Linked DNA regions of Homo sapiens: region 1 is linked to region 2. Evidence: fine-mapped expression QTL. A gene starts in region 2. The other region holds a variant in brackets. All regions are shown on one strand. Distances are from middle to middle.

Region 1 (5,473 bases), 29 kb after region 2:
TGCCCCACCCCACACGGCTATGGCCCTCTGTGGGTCTGCCCTTCCCAGCCCTCACCAGTCTGTGAAAGCACTGGGGATGCGGCGAGTTCACGTGCCCGTGGGGAAGGGGCCAGGAAAGACACCAAAGTGGTAAACCGCAGGAACATGAAGCTGTGAGGGCTGGTGACGCCGGGCGGGAAGCCAGGTGGGGAGGCAGGCTGGTGCGTGGCCTGACCCCACCTCGCAGCCGGGAAACTGAGGCACACAGAGATGTCTTGCACATGTCAGGGCCCCAGGTAGGTGGTGGCAGGAGTCTGGGACCTTGGGTGGGCCTCACCAGTCACACAGCCTTGGCTGACCTGTCTGTCCTCCCATCCAGCCAGAGGGACACAAAGACCTCTTTGTCTCTCCACCCTTCCGCCCAGAGCCTCCCCAGCCAGTGCAGCTCTGAGCGTGTCCCCCAGGGAGGGAGACAGCCCCTGGTGGGGACTGGCAGTCCTGGCAGCTGCCCTGAGGCACAGGCCCTGGGGGACTCGGTGCTTTGAGGGCAGGGGCAGGTGATGGAGATCGGCTGGGGAAAGGGAGGCCGAGAAGGCGGCAGTGTGGAGCGTGTGAATTTGTTCATGAACTTAGCTACAAAAATGTCTTTTCCAGTGTCACAGCTCTTCTAGAATTTGACTAGCAGGTTTTCCGATTTTTACTGGAAAGCCCTTTAAATAAAGAAAGAAAAAGAAAAAAAAACGTCTTCCTCAATCAAATCCGAGGTGGTTCCTTCCCCCACCAGGCTGGCTGGGTGGGGAGAGAAGGCTTGAAGCCCAGGCTCCTAGGGAGAGGCTCTGCTCCCCACCCCAGGGCTGGGCTGGGACACCGGCCCTTCCTGGCAGGGGTGTCCTACTCCACAGAGGAGCCTTGGGAGGTGGCCACCACTGGGCCACTGCCCCTCACCAGGCCCAGAGGCCCAGTTCTCAGCCTGAAAAGAAAACCTGCCCTGGGCCCCTCATGACCAGGGTGAGGCTTGTTGGGCACAGAGGGCCTGTCGGGAGCACTGGAACCCAGCGGCCTGGGAGGGGCCCAGGTCTGACGCCTCATCCTGCACCAGGCTCGCTGCAGGCCTTCAGCTCCAGAACTGTGTTCTCAAAATCCTGTTGATGCTGCCACAAGTGGGCTCTCTCCTCCCCCATTCCGGGAAGGTTCTGGGTGAGTGGCTAGCCATCCCTCCCACTGGGAGCTCCAGTATCTGAACTGCCAGCCACCTGCAGCCGCCACCTCACCCCAGGCGGTGCTGCACCCTGGGCTGGTGGGACCAGCCTGGAGGGCCCTCCTGGGGCTCTGGGGCTCATGGACAGCCTCCCACAGAGTGTCTCGGCTGGTCTCATTTCTGTCTGGGAGGGAGTTGGGTGAGCACCAGGGAGAGGCTGAGTGGATGCCCGCCCACCTGGAACAGTGCTAGGTGGGGATGGGGGGGGGGCATCACGGGGCACACACAAGCTGTCGGAAGGGCCGATGTCCACAAGGGACGAGAGTCAGGGGCGCGGCTGTGGGGGTGGAGGCGGCCTGGAAGAGCAGGCATGGCACAGCGGCCGCTGGCTCATGTGGACTGGCGAGGCACTGTCCTGCTGGGGCCGTCCCAAAGGGAAGCATGGCCCGTCACTCCCCAGGCTAAAAACCATCCACGGCTGCCCCTCCTCATGGCTGAAGTGCAGCTCCTAGGCCCTACCCCGACGCTCTCAGGTCCCCTTCTCTCCCTCACCCTGTGGAGAGCGGACCTGCCTCCTGTCCCTCGGAGGACTCTCAGGCCCCAGCCCTGCCGCAGCAGCTCGTGGTCCAGCTTGGCTGGCCCTGCCTGGCCCTCCCGGCTCCAGCAGCAGTGGTGGCTGCCAGCACTCTCACTCTGATGAAGCTCCCAGCCCGCCGACTGGAACAGTGTGTTCACCACTACGGTCTTGCCTGGGAAGAGACGAACTCCTGCACTTCCTGTCACGTTCCACTTCTTGTCCGTGACCAGCTAACCTCCCACCTCCGCCAGGAAGCCTCCCTGGGCTTCTCAACCACCCCATCACATCCGGCCAATGCT[T/C]CTTGCGATGGATCCCTCAGAAAGCCACGTGACCTCTGCAGGGGCCCTTGCCCCAGGTCCACGCCTTTGCCCCCAGCACCTCACAGGTACTCGGCAGATGCTAGTTAAATGGAGACTCCACCCCAAGGCTCAGCTACCCTCCCTCAGTCCTCCTCACCCCATGGGTTAGTGGGTTTCCTTCAAGTACCTCACCCAGCAGCCAGGAAGATTCCTCTTCATGTCAAATCGGTCTGAAGGGCACACTAGGCACGCGGTGGCCCTGACACTGCCCCTCCCTGGTCCTTTCCAACAGCACCGAGGACATGGAGGTCGGCCCAGGCTCAGGAATCACAGAGCTAACTGCTCATTTCGGCATCACAAGCACGAGCAGACGAATTTCAGAGACAGAAGCCAACATCCCCACCCCTCATCTTCAGAGGCTCCAGCCTGCCTGGCCTCTGTGGCTGGGTGGCCAGCCAAGGGCTCTGGAATTGGAGAGGCCTTGCTTCTCTACAGCAGGGTGTGACCCGCTCTGGCCTGCTGGCCCTCCTGCCCCAGGGACCGAGTAGGAGGCACTTTTGATTCCACCCGGGCTCTCAGGGGGATGAGGTGGCCTCAGGTGAGAGATCCTGATTGGCCACCCCAGAGCCCCGGTGGAAGGTGCAGCAGAGAGAAGGTCCTTTGGATCCGATAAGCAGAAGGATTTTAAACACTCTCTGAAGCTGTCTGAAGATCTGAGATTTTTCCACTCATTTATTCAGCAAGTATTCGCCGAATGCCTATTACATGCCAGGAGCTAAGGACACTATTTCCAAAGAACAGCTCATCCAAAAGGCATGTGAGTGCCCATTACTGCCAGGACCTGAGGCTGCATGGATGAAGAGACAGATCTTGCCTTGAAAGGCACTGTGGCCTGGCATGGGAGAGACAGGTGAGCCACTGTGTTAGGAGAGCTATTAATAGGGTACAGGAACAGAAGAAACGCTCCACGGCCCAAGGGATGGGCAGGGAGGGCTTCGGATGAGAGCACCAGAACCCAGGGCCATGAACAGCAAAGTCATCTGATGACCTTACTCTCCGCTCAGCACTCAGAACCACCCAGCTCCATGTCCCAACACCCACAGAGGACTGAGGTGGGGCAGACACCAGTGTGAGATGGAGACAGAAGGTGGGGAACTGGCAACATTCATCTGAAAATGCAGCCACAGGGAAACGGCTCGAGACTGAAAGGGTTCTAACACACACTGAAAACCTACCATTCGCTGTGACCGCAGCGGGGACCAGAGATGGAGAGGCAGTGTGCGGCACTGAGTCCTTACCAAATGGGGTCACAGACCCCTGGCAGCTCCGGAAAGACCAAAGAATCCGAAGCGGGGAAATAGCTTCACTTCACTTCAACCTTACTATAGAAAGATACATTTTTGCAGTTGTAATTCACAAGTGGAAGACGTACGGACAGAATAAAGCACTCGTTTAAGACAGTCTTTCCACGATGAGGGATGCCGGTTCACTGACACAGTGACTTTGAGACATAATACTGGAGCTGAATGTTTCACATTAACCAGCTGAATCCTTTAAACCTAAGTGCTAAGTACTGCCCACCTTTCAGAAGAAACTGAAGCTCAAGGGCTCAGCTTTGAAAGTGGCACAGCTCGCCGGTCACGGTGGCTCACACCTGTAATCCTGGCACTTTGGGAGGCTGAGGTGGGCAGATAACGAGGTCAAGAGATGGAGACCCTCCTGGCAACATGGTGAAACCGTGTCTCCACTAAAAATAGAAAAATCAGCTGGGCGTGGTGGCGCACGCCTGTAGTGCCAGCTACTTGGGAGGCCGAGGCAGGAGAATTGCTTGAACCCAAGAGGCAGAGGTTGCAGTGAGCCGAGATTGTGCCATTGCACTCCAGCTTGGGCGACAGAAAAAAAAAAAGAGAGAGAAAGTGGCACAGCTGAGATGTGAACCTAGCAGTCTGGGCCCCAGCCTGCTTTTAGCCACTTGGCCAGCATTCCCTGAGGTGGGAGCTTTCAGAAATCCTGATGTCCAGACTGTACCCTATCCCGATGAAACCAGAATCGCTGGGGTGGGCCCCAAGCACCAGCCATTTCTTCAACTCTCCAGGTAAGTCCATGACTCATGAACTGTAACCAAATTGTCCTTCCCTCCTTTGCCAAGTGACTCTGGGCAGTTCCCTGGGCAAGGGACCACCTGAATCTCAGAATCACCTATGAAACAGATAGTATGAAAAACCTGCCTCAAGGGGTGCTGAGAGCTTAAAATGTACATAGAACATTTTGCACAGATGGCTGGGCAGTGGAGATGGGGCTGCTGGGGCAGCCTGGACCACACCACTCAGGGCCTCGCAGGGACGTGGCTGGGTGAAATAGTGGAGGCCACTGAAGGTTTTCATTCAGAAAAGCCATATGAGCAGAGCCGTGCTTTTAGAAAGACCAAGAGGGCAAATAGGTGAAATAGCCTGAAATAGCCTGCTGGTGACTGGCATAAAAAAAGGGCACAAGCTGAAGAGACCTAGAACTAGGGACACAGAGTCCTAAGGCTGCCTGGTGACCCCCACCCCCACCCCAAAATCTGTGCAATGATAACTACACAAAATGGAAAAGCAAGGCCAAGTGCAGTAGCTCATGTCTGTCATCCCAGCACTTTGGGAGGCTGAGGCAGGAGGATCGCTTGAGCCCAGGAGTTCGAGACCAGCCTGGGCAACATATTAAGACCCTGTTTCAATAAAAAAACAAAAGAACCCAAAACATTTTGTAAGATGCCCTCAGACATGTCCTGACCAGCAGGGGCGACCCCAGACCTGCATATAAGAGGCCTTCAATTAGGGCTCAGCTTGTACCCAGAATCAAGAGCCAAGCTTGCCAGGGCACTGCCCCTCAGCCCCTGCCACCTCGTTCCAGCTCAGCCCACTCCAGGGTTTCTTCTTTAAAAAAAAAAAATTATATTGATTTTTTTGTAGAGATGGGGTCTGTGTTGCCCAGGCTGGTCTTGAACTCCTGGGCTCAAGCAGTCCTCTCACCTTAGCCTCCCAAAGTGCCATGATTCCCGGTGCCACACCCACCGTCTCCTGTCCTACTTCTAACCAGCCTTGAAGGGCCAGTGAGACCCCTCCCTAAGCCACTGGTCTTTTTCCGGCTTGCACTTGACACCTGACCTGACACCAGACATTCACACCTGAGACAGACCAGGCGCAGCTGACTCCCCTCATCCCTTCTCTGACTAAACTGGAATTTCTCCATGGCCACTGGTGGCATGATGGATTCTTCAATCCTCAGCGCAACACGAGGATACACTAGGAGCCTGGTTAATGCTGTTGCCAGTATAAGTGATAAGAATCCTCACGTGTGGCCAAGGATTTATTCAAAAGCTCACATTTCCCCCAGAGTGTTTCTCTTCAACCTATACACATCGTTGTTCTTGGCTCTGGG
Region 2 (5,219 bases):
CACGGGGCGGGCGGGGGAACCGGGACGCCTCACAGCAGGAGAACCCCAGCTGCCATCATGCGCTGTGGCCTGAGGTGGGGCGGGGCCAGGGACCGCCAGGACAGCCCGACCCGCCCCCCACAGTGGGGGTAGGAGCCCTGCCCCTGGAGAAGCTTTGGCGTCACCAGCCCCTGGTAGAATCCCAGCGGCGGAGGAGTGAGAAAAGAAAACAAAGAGCTCCAGCTCCCAGGGCCGTCGGGGAGAGGCGCCAGAGAGCCCCGCCCCCACCTCACGTCTCGGGGTGGGGAGGTGTTGCTGAGTCCTGAGCCCCCACGGGCCGGGGCCCAGTCCCTTAACGCACCTGCTCGGCCAAGGTCACCGGCGCAGGAGGAGGCGCGGCACGGAACCCAGACCCGGAGCGCGGCCGGCCCCTCCCTCCTCCTCCTCCTCCTCCTCGCCGCGAGGGGCCCCACCCCCGCGAGGGGGGCGAGAGGGAAAGCGGAGGTAGCGGGGAGGGAGGACGCCGCGAGAGGGCGCAGAGGGACACGCACCAGATACCGCGGGCGTCGGGCCAGTCGCGGGCCATGCCCGAGGCCAGCAGCAGGGGCGACACGGGCTTGTCGAAGAGGAAGTGGTCGTCGATGAGCTGCTGCTGCTCCGCCTCCGTCATGCTCTTGAGCGCGTAGTATCGGCCCGCCAGGTCGCCGTCCAGGCTGGACAGGGCTGCGAGGGGTGCGCTCAGGACGCTCGGCTCCCGCGCCCGCCCCTCCAGCCCGCAGCGCGGACCCGCCCGCCCCCGTGCCCCACCTCGGGGGACGTCAGAGGGCCCCACCCGCCCGGATCTGCGGGCGTCCAGTCCTCACGGCCCGGGCGACGGTCCCAGGCGGTGACCCCGCGCCAGGACCCGCCCTCCCTGGGCCCCAGGCCGCTGTGGGCGCGGGGCTGGGCCTCCGTCCCTCGGTCCCTCCGGGAAACTGAACCCGGGCGCGCGCAGATAAGAGCGCGACGGCGGCTGCCGCTCCCGGGCGACGTAAACAAAAGCGGGCGGGGACCGCGCCGGGAGGGGGACGCGGCCGCCGCCGCCCCTCGGCCCGCCCGGCCCCTACCTTCCACCGCGAGCTTCTCGATGGCGCGGCGCTCCCCGCGGCTGCAGTGCGGGGGGAGGCAGAAGCCACGGATGCTGCGGCCCGTGCGCACCCGCGAGCTCAGCACGTAGTTGGGGTCCAGGTCGTCGCCGCCCTGGGAGGCGAGACGGGAGTGAGCGCCCGAAGACCCCGGCCCCGCCCGCCCGGCCCGCCCGCAGCCCCGCACCTGCAGGTTGTCGGGGTTGAGGTCGGTCTTGTGCTCATCGCTGGGCTTGTAGCCGCCGTGCCGGTCCTCGATGATGGGGTCGAAGAGATCCTTGAACACTTCGTAGGACTCCTCGTCGCCCGCCACGCAGCCCACGGTCATGATGTACGGGTGGCCTGGGGGAGGGGGCGCGGGACGGGGACAGTGACGTCACTGCCGGGCCCGAGCGCGCTGCTGAGGACCCTGCGGCTGCGCGGGGGGAGGGGGGGCCGGGACCCCGGCCCCGAGGGGTCGCGTACCCGGGTTGTCCACGCCTGTCTGGATGACGTCGTCCAGCGTGAAGCCGCTCGGCGTGCTCTTGGCGCGCAGCTCCGCGTACAGCTCGGGGGTCAGCACCTTGGCCATGTGGTTGTTGTGGGCGCTCAGGTCGGGGAACTCGTCCTCGGCCGGGAAGCGCAGCTTCAGTGCGTTGTGGCTGTTGGAGAAGGGCATGGCGGCGGCGGGCTGCGGGGAGACGCGGGGTCAGAGGGGACCGGCACGCCGGGGTTCCCGGGCTCCCGCGTACCACTCAGGCCCCCGCCGCCGGGCCCCCCGGCGCCCCCCGGGACGCGGCCAAGGTCAGCGGGGTCCGCAGCGCGCGCGGGGAGCGCCATCATCGCCGGGGACCCCCGGCCGGTCCGGCGCGCGCTCCAGGCGACGCGCCCCCTTTGCACGCAGCGCCCCTAGCCCGGGCGCGGACGCCCCCGGCCCCCGGGCCCACTCACCGGGCGGCCGGGCGGGGGCGGGGGCGCTCCGTCCGTCGGCAGCTCCCGGAGCGACGCAGGCGAACAGCGGCCGCTCCGCGCTCCCGCGGCTCTTAAGGGGCACAACGCGGGCCGCCCATTGGCGGCTATTTATAGCCCATTCATTCCATTGGCCCGCGCCGCGGGGTGGTGCCGCCGCTTTGTCCGCCGCCCGCAGCCCCCAACACCCTGGCCGCCCACCCGAGCTGTCCCCTCGCTGGGACCCCGCGCAGCCTGCCCAGTCCCCCGCCCAAGACCTCGAGGCCGAAACCTCAGGTCCTTGGATATCTGGATCCCCTCGCACGCCCTTGCCTCTGGGCGGGAAACTGAGGCGGAGAGCCTCCGGGCACTCGAGGACGCTTGGGTTCATCCGCATCCTCGAGCCTGCCCGCCTAGTCCAGCCAGCCCCCGCGGCGGCGGCGAGGGGCCGGGCGAAAGCTTTCGGGGCTTCCGCAGCAGGTACGGCCCCCGCCCCACCCCCGGCCAGTGCGAGCTGGCCCGGAGCCGCCGACCTTCCTCAAGGTGCCCGCAGGCGTTTCCTGGGCGATCCTGGTGCAAAGCGAAGGCGCGCGGGAAGCGCAGTCTGGCTGCGGCCCAGCCCGGGGGCACCCGCGGTGCCCTGACCTTGGACAAGTCCTGGGTCTCGGGGGGCTGCGAGCCAGAAACCACGGGGACGCTGTGGCCTTAAGAGGCCGCTGGCAAGTGCAGCCTCGGAGTTTCCAGACCCCAACCCTGGGCCCTCTTCGCAGGGGACAAGTTTACCCGACCCCCAAAGGCAGTCCCCGGAGACTTCAGGCAAAGATGGGAGGAAACGCTAATAAACAATAAGCATAAGTGCGATTAAAAAAAAAAACTGATCTCACGAATAACCAGAATCATGCAAATTAAGCAGTGACTCCACCTGCCCCTACCCCCAACACTCCCAGATCGACCCCAGCCATTGCTGGCTTTGAGCTGGAATGCGGGAAGACAGGCGTCCACACGCTGCCTGCAACTTAAATTGCTGCATGCTTTTTGCAAGATAATTTGGCAGAATCTATTAACGTTAACAATGTTCGAACTCCGTGACCCAGCAATCTCCCCTTCTAGGAATGCAGCCCTTAGAAAGGATGTCTCAGTTCTCTCCACTAATGGACCAAGAGATCTGTGGAGGGAAAAACAAACATAACTGGATACAACCCGATGCCCCATCAGGCGGGAGTGGCCAAGGGTAGGGAGGCATCTGCTTGCTGTGGAATATTATGCAGCTGTTAAGAGGGGGAAGTGGAGGATGTGGGGTTAATATCCATCAGGGACCCTCATCTGTTGCTCTGTGAATAAAGCAAAGAAGGGGGGAACTCTTATCTGTGGGTATATTTGATACAAATCCCTCCAGCAGTGGCACAATGAGCACCTAACAGGTGCCAGCCGCTGGGGATACAGCAGGCAGCGAGGTACACAGCGCCTGCTGCTGGAAGAAGACTGGCCATGAGCCAGCAGCCCAACAAACCAGATGACATCAGATCGGTGCTGCTGGGGCCAGGGGGACACAGAGCAGTGGCGTTCCAGGTATAAGGGACCCCGAATAGGTGCCTCAGAGCAGAAGGCACCAGAGCCAAGGCCCAAAGGCAGGGGAAGCCTGTTCGCCTCTGCCTATGTGAGCATCGGTGTGGGGGCCTTTTCTCCTGTCTCATCCCCATGGTCACTGCAGAGGAGACACATGCCTCTTTGCTCCTTGGCATGCTTCGTCCTGTTCCAAGCCAGCATTTTTTAGACTTAATAAAACCAACCCATGTAAAAAGGCAAACGGCCCCTCTGGGCTGGCCAGACAGCAGGTGTCCCTTAAGCCTGGAATTCCTGCACTCTGTGCCCCGTGCAGCCTCTTCGCCCAGTTTTAGAAATTTCTGCAGCTGCCCACCTGCTACCCCACAAAACCTGAAGGGCTTAAGTTTCTGTTTCTGGAAGGGATAGCTGCAGCCCCTGGAGGCAGACTTGGGGGGAGGGAGAGACTTGGGGGCCACACTCAGGACTTCCTCTGTCTTCAGCAACTGCAGCTTCTCAGAAGGCCAACCCTCCCCTCTCTCACCCTCCTGGCTGAGAGCCTAACCTGCTTCCCAGGTCCCCCATGGGAAAGGACCCCCTTTCCCCTTTCCTGAAGGGGGCAGCCCCTCCCCCCAACACCTGTGGTTATTTCTCGTCAGGTGGGATGAGACTGAGAAAAGAAATAAGACACAGAGACAAAGTATAGCGAAAGAACAGTGGGCCCAGGGAACTGGTGCCAGCATATGGAGGACCCGCGCCGGCACTGGTCTCTGAGTTCCTTCAGTATTTATTGATCACTATTTCTACTATTTCAGTGAGGGGGATGTGGCAGGACTTTAGGGTAATGGTGGGGAGAGGGTCAGCAGGAAAACATGTGAGCAAAGGTCTCTGTGTCATAAATAAGTTTAAGGAAAGGTGCTGTGCCTGGATGTGCACGTAGGCCAGATTTATGTCTGACTTTACACAAACATCTCAGTGCAGTAAAGAGCGGTATTGCCGCCAGCATGTCTCACCTCCAGCCATAAGGCAGTTTTCTCGTATCTCAGTAAATAGAATGTACAATCGGGTTTTACACCGAGACATTCCATTCCCAGGGAGGAGCAGGAGATAGATGCTTTCCTCCTATCTCAACTGCAAAGAGGCCTTCCTCTTTCACTAATCCTCCTCAGCACAGACCCTTTACGGGTGTTGGGCTGGGGGATGGTCAGGTTTTTCCCTTGTCACGAGGCCATATCTCAGGCTGTCTCAGTCGGGGGAAACCTTGGACAACACCCAGGCTTTCTTGGGCAGAGGTCCCTGCGGCCTTCCGCAGTGCATCGTGTCCCTGGGTACTCAAGACTGGAGAATGGCGATGGCTTTCACCAAGCACACTGCCTGCAAACACATTTTAACACAGCACGTCCTGCACAGCCCTAAACCCATTAAACCTTGAGTCAACACAGCACATGTTTCTGCGAGCACAGGGTTGGGGCTAGGGTTACAGATTAACAGCATCTCAAGGCAGAAGAATTTTTCTTAGTACAGAACAAAATGGAGTTTCTTATGTCCACTTCTTTCTACATAGACACAGTAGCAGTCTGATCTCTTTCTTTCCCCTACACTTTCCCTCCACAGGCAAGGTCAGAACTGCAGATATGAGATCCAGAG

What was found. PIP is the estimated chance that this variant, and not a neighbour inherited with it, causes the effect.
Region 1: its variant is fine-mapped to the expression of CKB in whole blood (INTERVAL, PIP 0.91).

The regions. Positions count from the first base shown.
Region 1 is chr14:103,549,715-103,555,187 of GRCh38, forward strand. It overlaps LOC124903392 (a long non-coding RNA gene), which reads right to left and starts at 3,767. Exons shown (of 2, transcript XR_007064357.1): 1 at 2,241-3,767; 2 at 1-1,926. It also overlaps the pseudogene RNU7-160P. The variant T/C (reference allele first, on the strand shown) is at 2,054.
Region 2 is chr14:103,520,733-103,525,951 of GRCh38, forward strand. It overlaps CKB (creatine kinase B), which reads right to left and starts at 2,098. Exons shown (of 8, transcript NM_001823.5): 1 at 2,034-2,098; 2 at 1,569-1,773; 3 at 1,291-1,445; 4 at 1,086-1,218; 5 at 531-702. The coding sequence starts at 1,761. RefSeq lists enhancers at 1-563, 2,340-3,225 and silencers at 337-706, 717-786, 927-976.